Linked DNA regions of Homo sapiens: all the other regions are linked to region 3. Evidence: fine-mapped expression QTL. A gene starts in region 3. Each other region holds a variant in brackets. All regions are shown on one strand. Distances are between the middles of the regions. Region 1 has its middle 32 kb from the start of ITPKB. Region 2 overlaps SRP9 (signal recognition particle 9). Region 3 holds the start of ITPKB (inositol-trisphosphate 3-kinase B).

Region 1 (2,808 bases), 32 kb after region 3:
TGCTTTCAGACATGTACTCTTAATTCAACCTGTGTCAACACAAAATGAAAGGCATTTTTCTCCCACTACAGTATTCCCCATGAAACAAAGATCAAGATTATCGTGTAGGGCAATTAATGCTGTGTTTAAACGTCTCCTTTTGAGAATAATGCTTTAGTGTTTGTGAAAGTGTCTTTCAACTTTTAATGACTTTTATTTGTTGTTTATTTGGTGTTAATCTTCTCTTTTAGTTTTCTGTTATCAAATGTCTTTATCACGTAGAGATTATTTTTATGTTATTGAAATAATCTATAAGTACCATACATTTTCTCATAACAACAATTATGATTATTATTTTAAATAGAAACAGAAAACTTTTGAAACATTTATGATAACCCTGACACAGGAACATGATTCACTGTTTCTTTTTTTTTTTTTTTTTTTGAGACGGAGTTTTACTCTCATTTCCCAGGCTGGAGTGCAGTTGCGCGATCTCTGCTCACTGCAGCTTCCACCTCCCAGGTTCAAGCGATTCTTCCCGCCTGTCTCCCAAGTAGCTGGGATTACAGACGTGCGCAGCCACCCCACCCGGCTAATTTTTTTGTATTTTTACAAGAGACAGGGTTTCACCATGTTGGCTAGGCTGGTCTCAAATTCCTAACCTCAGGTGATCTGCCCACCTTGGCCTCCCAAAGTGCTGGGATTATAGGCGTGAGCCACCAAGCCCAACCTCATTATTTCTTATTATGGTCACTCTGTTATCATTTAAAAACATGTAAATCGGTGGGGTTTTTTTTGTTTTGTTTTGTTTTGAGACAGGATCTTGCACTGTCGCCCAGGCTGAAGAAATCATAGTGATGAAATCATAGCTCACTGCAGCCTGGATCTCCTGGGCTCAAGTGATCCTCCCACCTCAGCCTCCTGAGTAGCTGGGACTACGGGTTCACATCACTACACTTGGCTAATTTTTTGACTTTTAGTAGAGACAAAGTCTCACTATGTTGCCCAGGCTGGTCTTGAACTCCCCCACCTCAGCCTCCCAAAGTGCTGGGATTACAGGCATGAGCCACTGCACCCAGCATAATAGTATTATAAAAATACAGAACAATTTATAAGTTTTGAGACATCCCAAAAAATCCTGGGAACTATGATTTGTTCCTGAATCCCAAAGATTAATATAGAACTTTTTTGACTGGTGAGCATGTTCTTCAAACTCTAGCTCACATGTCCTATCTTCTTTAAAAAAACTTTCTGTATTAGCCAAGGCTGATG[G/T]TTGCAAATGCCAAAAATCTAATACAGTGGGCAAAGGGGTACTTTATTGATTCATGTAACTGGGAGTGGTTGTAGCTTCAGGCACAAGAGGACCCAGAGGTTCAGAGTGTCATGGCCTCTCTCTCTCTCTCTCTCTCTCTCTCTCCAGTTTCTCCTCTGACTTAGATTTAGTTTTCCTCCACCTAAAGCTAAAGTTAGTCACACTGGGAGCTCCAGATGTGTGTTATCCTTAAGTCTCATGATCCCAGACAAAGAGAGAGTGAACGCTTCTCTAATAGGTTTGGTGAAAGTCCCCAGGAGCTTTTGGATTGCCCCAGCATGTGCCCCATGCACATCCCTGAGCCCGTGACTGTCAGCAGGAAGACAGAATACCCTCATGGCCAACCTTGGACCACCTGCCCTCCTCTGGGATCAGTCCTACCTGACTCCATGGAATAGATCCCCCATAAGAAAGATGGATTCTATGTGAAGAAGGCAGGGCTGTGATGCTGGGTACTGGGAAGTGACAGATGTCCCCCTCACCCTCCATTGTTTTCTCCTTCCCCGAAGAATCAGTACCTCCCTCACTTGCATGCCCATGGCTTTGGATTCTTCCTGTGTTGTATTTCTTCTCACAGCACACTCTTGTAGGCACATCCATCTCACAGATCCATCCATCCGTGAGTTCCTCCAGGAACTGGTCTTGCTCCTGTGGCACTCCAGCACCTAGCATGTACCTGGCATGTAGTAGGTACTCCATAGCTAATATTTATTGGAATTTATTACCTGTCATGCACTATTCAAAGTTGTATATGAACTAGTTTACTCTTCACAGTAATACGATGAGGTAGATATTATTGTCCTTCATTAAATATTTATTGACTAAGTTAATGAAAGTAAGCCATGATTTAAAGAAGCTACCCACTGAACCCCATGATAGAATTCAAGGGCTGTCTACCATAGTTGAAAAGACTTCTCTCTGTCAAAGGGAACTATTGTCTTGTGACTACTTCCCTGAAGGTAGCATGTCTGACCACATAACAAGGGTGGGATGACCTCCACCAAAGAGGCTGGGCCAATGCTAATGATGCAGGCCGGAGGCAGAGGGCACCAGCCACCAGGCACTCCTTGCCACCCCCATAGCAGGGACATCATAAAATGTCTGGGTTTCCCCGGAGGCCAGCAAACAAAGGAACAACTGCCTTTTGGAGTAAGTAATCCTGATACTGCATGTAGTCCAAGGCACACAGAAGGAATCCCTCTGGCAGATAAACCGTAGAGTTGCACAGCAAGAGGGACCTTACAAATGATCTAAGACTGTGCTTTTGTTTTCAGGATGAGGAAACAGAAGCCTGTAAAGGTGAAAGGAATTGTCCAAGGTCCCGTGGTTAGTACAGAAACTAGAAACTGGAAGTAGAACCCAGATCGCTTTCTGAGTCCCCTGAGACTTTGCATATGCTGAATGATTATAAATGATTATAAATAAGTCTTTGTTTGTTTGTTTTTTGAGACGGAGTCTCCTGCAGCAGCACTCTGTAACCTATCTCGGCTCACTGCAACCTCCACCTCCCAGGCTCA
Region 2 (2,667 bases), 950 kb before region 3:
CGCCTTGGCCTCCCAAAGTGTTGGGATTATAGGCGTGAGCCACTGTGCCTGGACTTTTTTTTTTTTTTTTTTTTAAAGAAGGAGTCTGGCTCTATTACCCAGACTGGAGTGCAATGGTTCATTCTTGGCTCACTGCAACCTCTGCCTTCCGGGTTCAAGCAATTCTCCTGCCTCGGCCTCCCAAGTAGGTGGGATTACAGGTGGGCACCACCACACCCAGCTAATTTTTGTATTTTTAGTAGAGATGAGATTTCACCATGTCGCCCAGGCGGCTGGAGTTGAACTCCTGACCTCAAGCGATCCACCCACCTCGGCCTCCCAAAGTGCTGGGATTACAGGTGTGATCCACCACGCCCAGCCCCAGAGTGATTTCTGAAAGGCTAATTTGATTGTTACTCCCTTGCTTAGAAACCTTTAAACTCCACCCTTGCATCCTCTCTAATCTCTGTCATTTCTGTATTATGTAAGAGCTCCTTTAATGTGCTGTGATGTGTTAGGCCTCAGTGCTTTCAAACATTCTGTTTCCTCCTTTGCAATATTGAATCCCACCTCCACCCCTAATGTGGCCAGACTGCTGCTTATCTTTCAAAACCCAACTTGAGGATTACTTCATTTCTTGCTTTTCATTTTGGCTTTTTGTGCTGTATCACAATTCTTTTATCACATTTGTCTTTTTAATAGACTGCCCTTCAAGACAATAGAGATAGATCAGTAATATTCTTACATGTCTTATTTCCATTGCCTACTATGATGTCTTGACCCAGAGAGCACTCAGTAAACATTTTTTAAATAGTTAGTTCTTTTGAAAATTTTATAGAGTGATTTTAAAAATCACTTTTTGTCTTTGGTCATATATTGTATTTGTGTTCAGGGTTCCATTATGATGAGACTGCATGAAGTTAGACCTTTTAGTGATTACCATGTCTTCTAAGAACCAATTGAATGTAGTGAGTAGCTAAACATGTGGAAAAGGAAGAGTGAATCGAGATGTAGTATACTAGACATAGATTGAAGAGATGTGAATCCTAGCTTAGTCATTTACTAGCATTTTGGCCTTGGAAAAGTTTAGGCCAAAAATTTAGCCTTCTGGTCTCAATTTCCTCATCTGTAAAGTA[T/C]CATAGTGATAGTAAAAAAATATATGAAAGTATCTAACATGAGTGCTTACCCTTGGTAGATTGAGTACATGTATTCTTTTGTTTGTTGATTGGTTGGTTGATTGCTTTTTTTTTTTTTTAGAGACAGTGTCTTGCTCTATTGCTCAGGCTGCAGTGCAGTGGCATGATCATAGCTCACTGCATCCTCGACCTCCTGGGCTCAAGCGGTCCTCTTGCTTCAGCCTCCTGAATAGCAGAGACTACAGGTGTGCACCACCACACTCAGCTAATTTTTAAATTTTTTTGTCAAGACAGGGTCTCATTATATTGCCCAGGTTGATCTGGAACTCCTGGACTCAAGCCATCTTTCTGCCTTAGCCTCCCAAACCACTGGGATTATGGGTGTGAACCACTAAGTACTTCTTAAATCTTGACATTCCACACAGAAAAATTTTAATTGTGATTGTCACAGAGTGGTTAGGTATACTTGCTGAAGAAAAACCCCTATGTCCTGTCTTAAAAATAGGGGAATAGGCCGGGCGCGGTGGCTCGTGCTGGTAATCCCAGCATTTTGGGAGGCTGAGGTGGGCGGATCATGAGGTCAGGAGTTCGAGACCAGCCTGACCAACACAGTGAAACCCCGTCTCTACTAAAAATACAAATATTAGCATGGTGGTGGGTGCCTGTAATCTCAGCTACTTGGGAGGCTGAGGCAGGAGAATCGCTTGAACCTGGGACTGGGAGGCAGAGGTTGCAATGAGCCAAGATTGTGCCACTGCACTCTAGCCTGGGTGACAGAACTAGACTCGGTCTCAAAAAAAATAAAATAAGGGAATAAATGCAGAACGAATTTTAATACAAAAGGCCTTATCTCCAATTGATGGCTCTTTTTGCCCTGTTAATGATTGAATATAATTAAGGATCCATGTTAACTTCGACTTTTTTATAATCCCATGTATCCATCATTTTTCTAATCCCATAATTGATTTAGAATACTGTCTTCTATGGACCTAAAATCTTTTTCTGTCAGAAATTTCAGTGAGAAGGTATGTACATTCTCTCATAGGACATGTGCTAAAATTTTGATGATGAAGATTAATATGGCCTTTTTACAAGATTGCCGCACAAATTTGTACAATGCGTGGATAAAAATTTTTTTAAGTGAGTTGTTTAAAAGGCTCACTTAAAAAAATCAGTTGGGCATGATGAGGTTGAACTTCAAGTTATTTAAGTTGTTGACTTTTATTATAGGATCATTAGTTCCTGTTGTTTAAAACTCATGTGAACCTTTAAGATGGGCTGAAGAAAAGTGGATCTGTACTACAAAATGAGGAAAGGGCTGCCAGCTTAAAGTTGCTGTTTTTGAAGATTCTACAACAGATGGCTTTATGACCAACCATAAGCAGATCTTAAGTATCTAGTGAAGAATTTAACTGCTAACAAGGAAGAATTTGGTTTGATTTAAAAGTAATATCTTCAAGCCTGGGCAACATGGAGAAACCCCGTCTCTACTAAAAATAGAAAAATTAGCTAGGTGTGGTTGTGTGTGCCTGTAGTCCCAGCTACTCAGGAA
Region 3 (2,808 bases):
CGAGCCGCTGCCAGCGCCCGGATCTGGGAGGGCGCCCGCGTGCCCGCCGTTTACCTTCCTGACCCTAGCCTTGGGGCTGTGTCTCTCGGCCTACGAAGGCCTGGGCGGGCAGCGGGGCCGCAGCCGAAGCATTTTTCAGGGCTAGCCTTGTCGCCTATCCCTAGACAAGTGTTTTGTGAGTGTGGGCGCACCGAGGTTCTACACGTTCTCTTTACCGGAACCAGTACTTGCTGCCCCCCTGCCGTCGTCCCCTATGGGGGGGTGTCTGTGAGTGTGTGTGTATACACGCGTGTGTGTATACGCCGCACGCGCGCGGAGCGAGTCCGCTCTCAGCGCGCCCTGTTGCCGAGGACGCGACTGCCCCTGCGGGCTCCCGGACCCGCGCCCACTCGGAGGAACTTAGGGGCGTGCATGGCTGCAGCCGGGCAGCAGCCCTAGGTGCACAGAGCCTCTAGCTCTGCAAACCTCCCAGGAGCCGGCGCTCTAACACCCCAGGGCAGCGCCGCGGAGCGCAGGGCTTCTCCGCATCCCGGGCAGCCTCGCCCGGCGCCAGCAGAGCCGCCCCGAGACCCCAGCCTGGGGACTCCTGGAGCGCGCTGAGGGAGGCGGCGCGGAGTGAGCGGCCCGGAAGGCGGGTAGGAGAAATGCGGAGACCTCGTCTCTCCCTATTTTCTCCCCACCGCCACTCCATGTCACCCTCCAAAATCAAACCCCCTTCCCTGCCTCCCCAGCCCACCCCTTTGCCCTGTTTCGGAACCAGGAACGCCGAGATTCGCTCCAGAGCAGAAAGTGAGGGAAAAGAGGGTTGTTCAGAGGCGAGAGCCATTAAAAGGCCGCCAAACTTACCTGCAGTTTCTCAGATTCTCAGGTCCTGTGTAGACTACATGCCCAGAGGCGCAAACCTCGTAGGGACGAGATGGCTTTAAAAGTAAAAATGCTCAGAAATTATTTTCTCACAAGCTATGGAAGACAAAAAAGAGGAGTGCGAAAGAGGGGGGAAAGCTCTTCGGTTCAGGGGCCCGGCGATCCCGGCAGTGGCGACGCCAAGCCGGCCCTGCACGCCCTTTTCGACCGTGGAGATACTGCCCCTGTCAGTGTCTGCTCCGGGCTACTTCAGTGTTTGTTCAATGCACGATTAAAAAAAAAAAAAAGAAAGAAAGAAAAGTTGTTGGGGGGGGGGGTAGTGGAGGAGGGAGGAGGGAGAAAGGCGGAGGCTTGGGGGAGGAAAGCAGGAAGGAAGTTGTGAGCCTGTCTGGGGTTGAACTCAGCGGAACAAGTTTTTCTTTTCTTCTTTTTTTTTTTTTTCTATTGCTTGGCAAGACGAGGGAGGGAAACACTTAAAAAAAAGTTTCCATTGTTAGCTAACAACAACAAAAAAGGCTTTTAACTTCTGCGGTTTAAAGATATACAATTCATTTTCCACCCCTCAATCGAGGCTTGCTGATGTGTCTAGCTTTATGAAACTATTTTTGAAAAATGTTTTTAATAAAGTTTTGAGTGTATGTCTTAAACAAAGCAAATCATGGGGACCTTTTTAGCATTTAAAAAAGGCTACAATCCTGTATAAACAGTTTGTGTTCTTGTACACAGTTCTGCAAATTCAAAGAAGGTACATTGAGGTCACCTTCCTGCAGAGTTGCAGGTTTTAAGTGCATCACAGTAGTATTTTGGAAGACTGGTTGGTCTATGAGCTGGGGATGGTTTTGCAGTGCAATTGGTAGATATATAAATACACCTTTACATGTCACATTTATTTATAAATGCACACGGCACATGTGACATTCGCATATTTTTGCACTTAATTCTCAGAATTATTTTAAGAAAAAGCATAGTCCTGAAACTAAGAAGGCTTGGGTAACGTCTGAAACCCCTCTTGCTCCTGTAGACCCTTGTAGACTGTCTCCTGTAGACTGGATCATTTTCAAGAAACTTTCTCCCCTACTATCAGCAAAAAAGGGAGAAAGAACATCAGCCAACATTACTGGGCAGGGGATCCTACCCCTTCTAAGCCCTGGCACTGCCAGTGTGTTTTACATAATTCTCTAAATCTTAAACTACAGCATTTAGTGAAAGGAGGGAAAACACAGCTGCACGGCTCAGGAGACTGAAACATCCAAAGCCTGAATTGGTCCTTATATCATGATTAGCTGAAATTCAGATGGAAATTTTGACTTTACTTGTAGCACACAGATCTCTTGCTTGTTTATGTAACAATACTGTTAAGTGAGCAAAGCAACCTGCTGCTCCATCAGGAAGAGGCTCATGCTAAATCTGAAATCAAGAGATCTTCTAGCCAAGAATACCTGAGAATCACACACTGTTGAAAACTTTATAATTTTTAAAAATTAGAAATGGAAGAATTGAACCTAATTACCCTCCTACCCTCAATGGGGCTTTTTTAAAAAAAAGCCCAATCCCAGAACTTTGGGAGGCCAAGGCAGGCAGATCACAAGGTCAGGAGTTCGAGACCAGCCTAACCAACATGGTGAAACCCTGTCTTTACTAAAAATACAAAAATTAGTAGGTCGTGGTGGTGCGCTCCTGTAATCCCAGCTACTTGGGTGGCTGCTGAGGCAGGAGAATCGCTTGAACCCAGGAGGTGGAGGTTGCAATGAGCCAAGATCTCACCACTGCACTCCAGCCTGAGCGACAGAGTGAGACTCCATCTAAAAAAAAAAAAAAAAAAAAAAAAAAAGAGCCCAGAGTTATTCAGGTCTCTGAGCAGTTATTCAGGATCTGAGCAGTTCCTAAGAAAGAGAAGCCAGCCCTCTCCTTGACCCTAATTTGGTTCCCTAGGGGCAAAAAAGA

What was found. PIP is the estimated chance that this variant, and not a neighbour inherited with it, causes the effect.
Region 1: its variant is the best candidate, but not a certain one, in a credible set for the expression of ITPKB in monocytes (TOPMed, PIP 0.60).
Region 2: its variant is the best candidate, but not a certain one, in a credible set for the expression of ITPKB in sun-exposed skin (GTEx, PIP 0.83).

What each region holds. Positions count from the first base shown.
Region 1 is chr1:226,770,349-226,773,156 of GRCh38, forward strand. No RefSeq gene overlaps it. Among named protein-coding and RNA genes, the nearest start is that of ITPKB, 32 kb to the left of the region's middle. The variant G/T (reference allele first, on the strand shown) is at 1,252.
Region 2 is chr1:225,785,626-225,788,292 of GRCh38, forward strand. All of the region lies in intron 2 of SRP9 (signal recognition particle 9), which reads left to right. Among named protein-coding and RNA genes, the nearest start is that of SRP9, 9.1 kb to the left of the region's middle. The variant T/C (reference allele first, on the strand shown) is at 1,116.
Region 3 is chr1:226,738,195-226,741,002 of GRCh38, forward strand. ITPKB (inositol-trisphosphate 3-kinase B) reads right to left here and starts at 1,088. Exons shown (of 8, transcript NM_002221.4): 1 at 847-1,088. RefSeq lists enhancers at 1-221, 845-1,094 and a silencer at 385-624.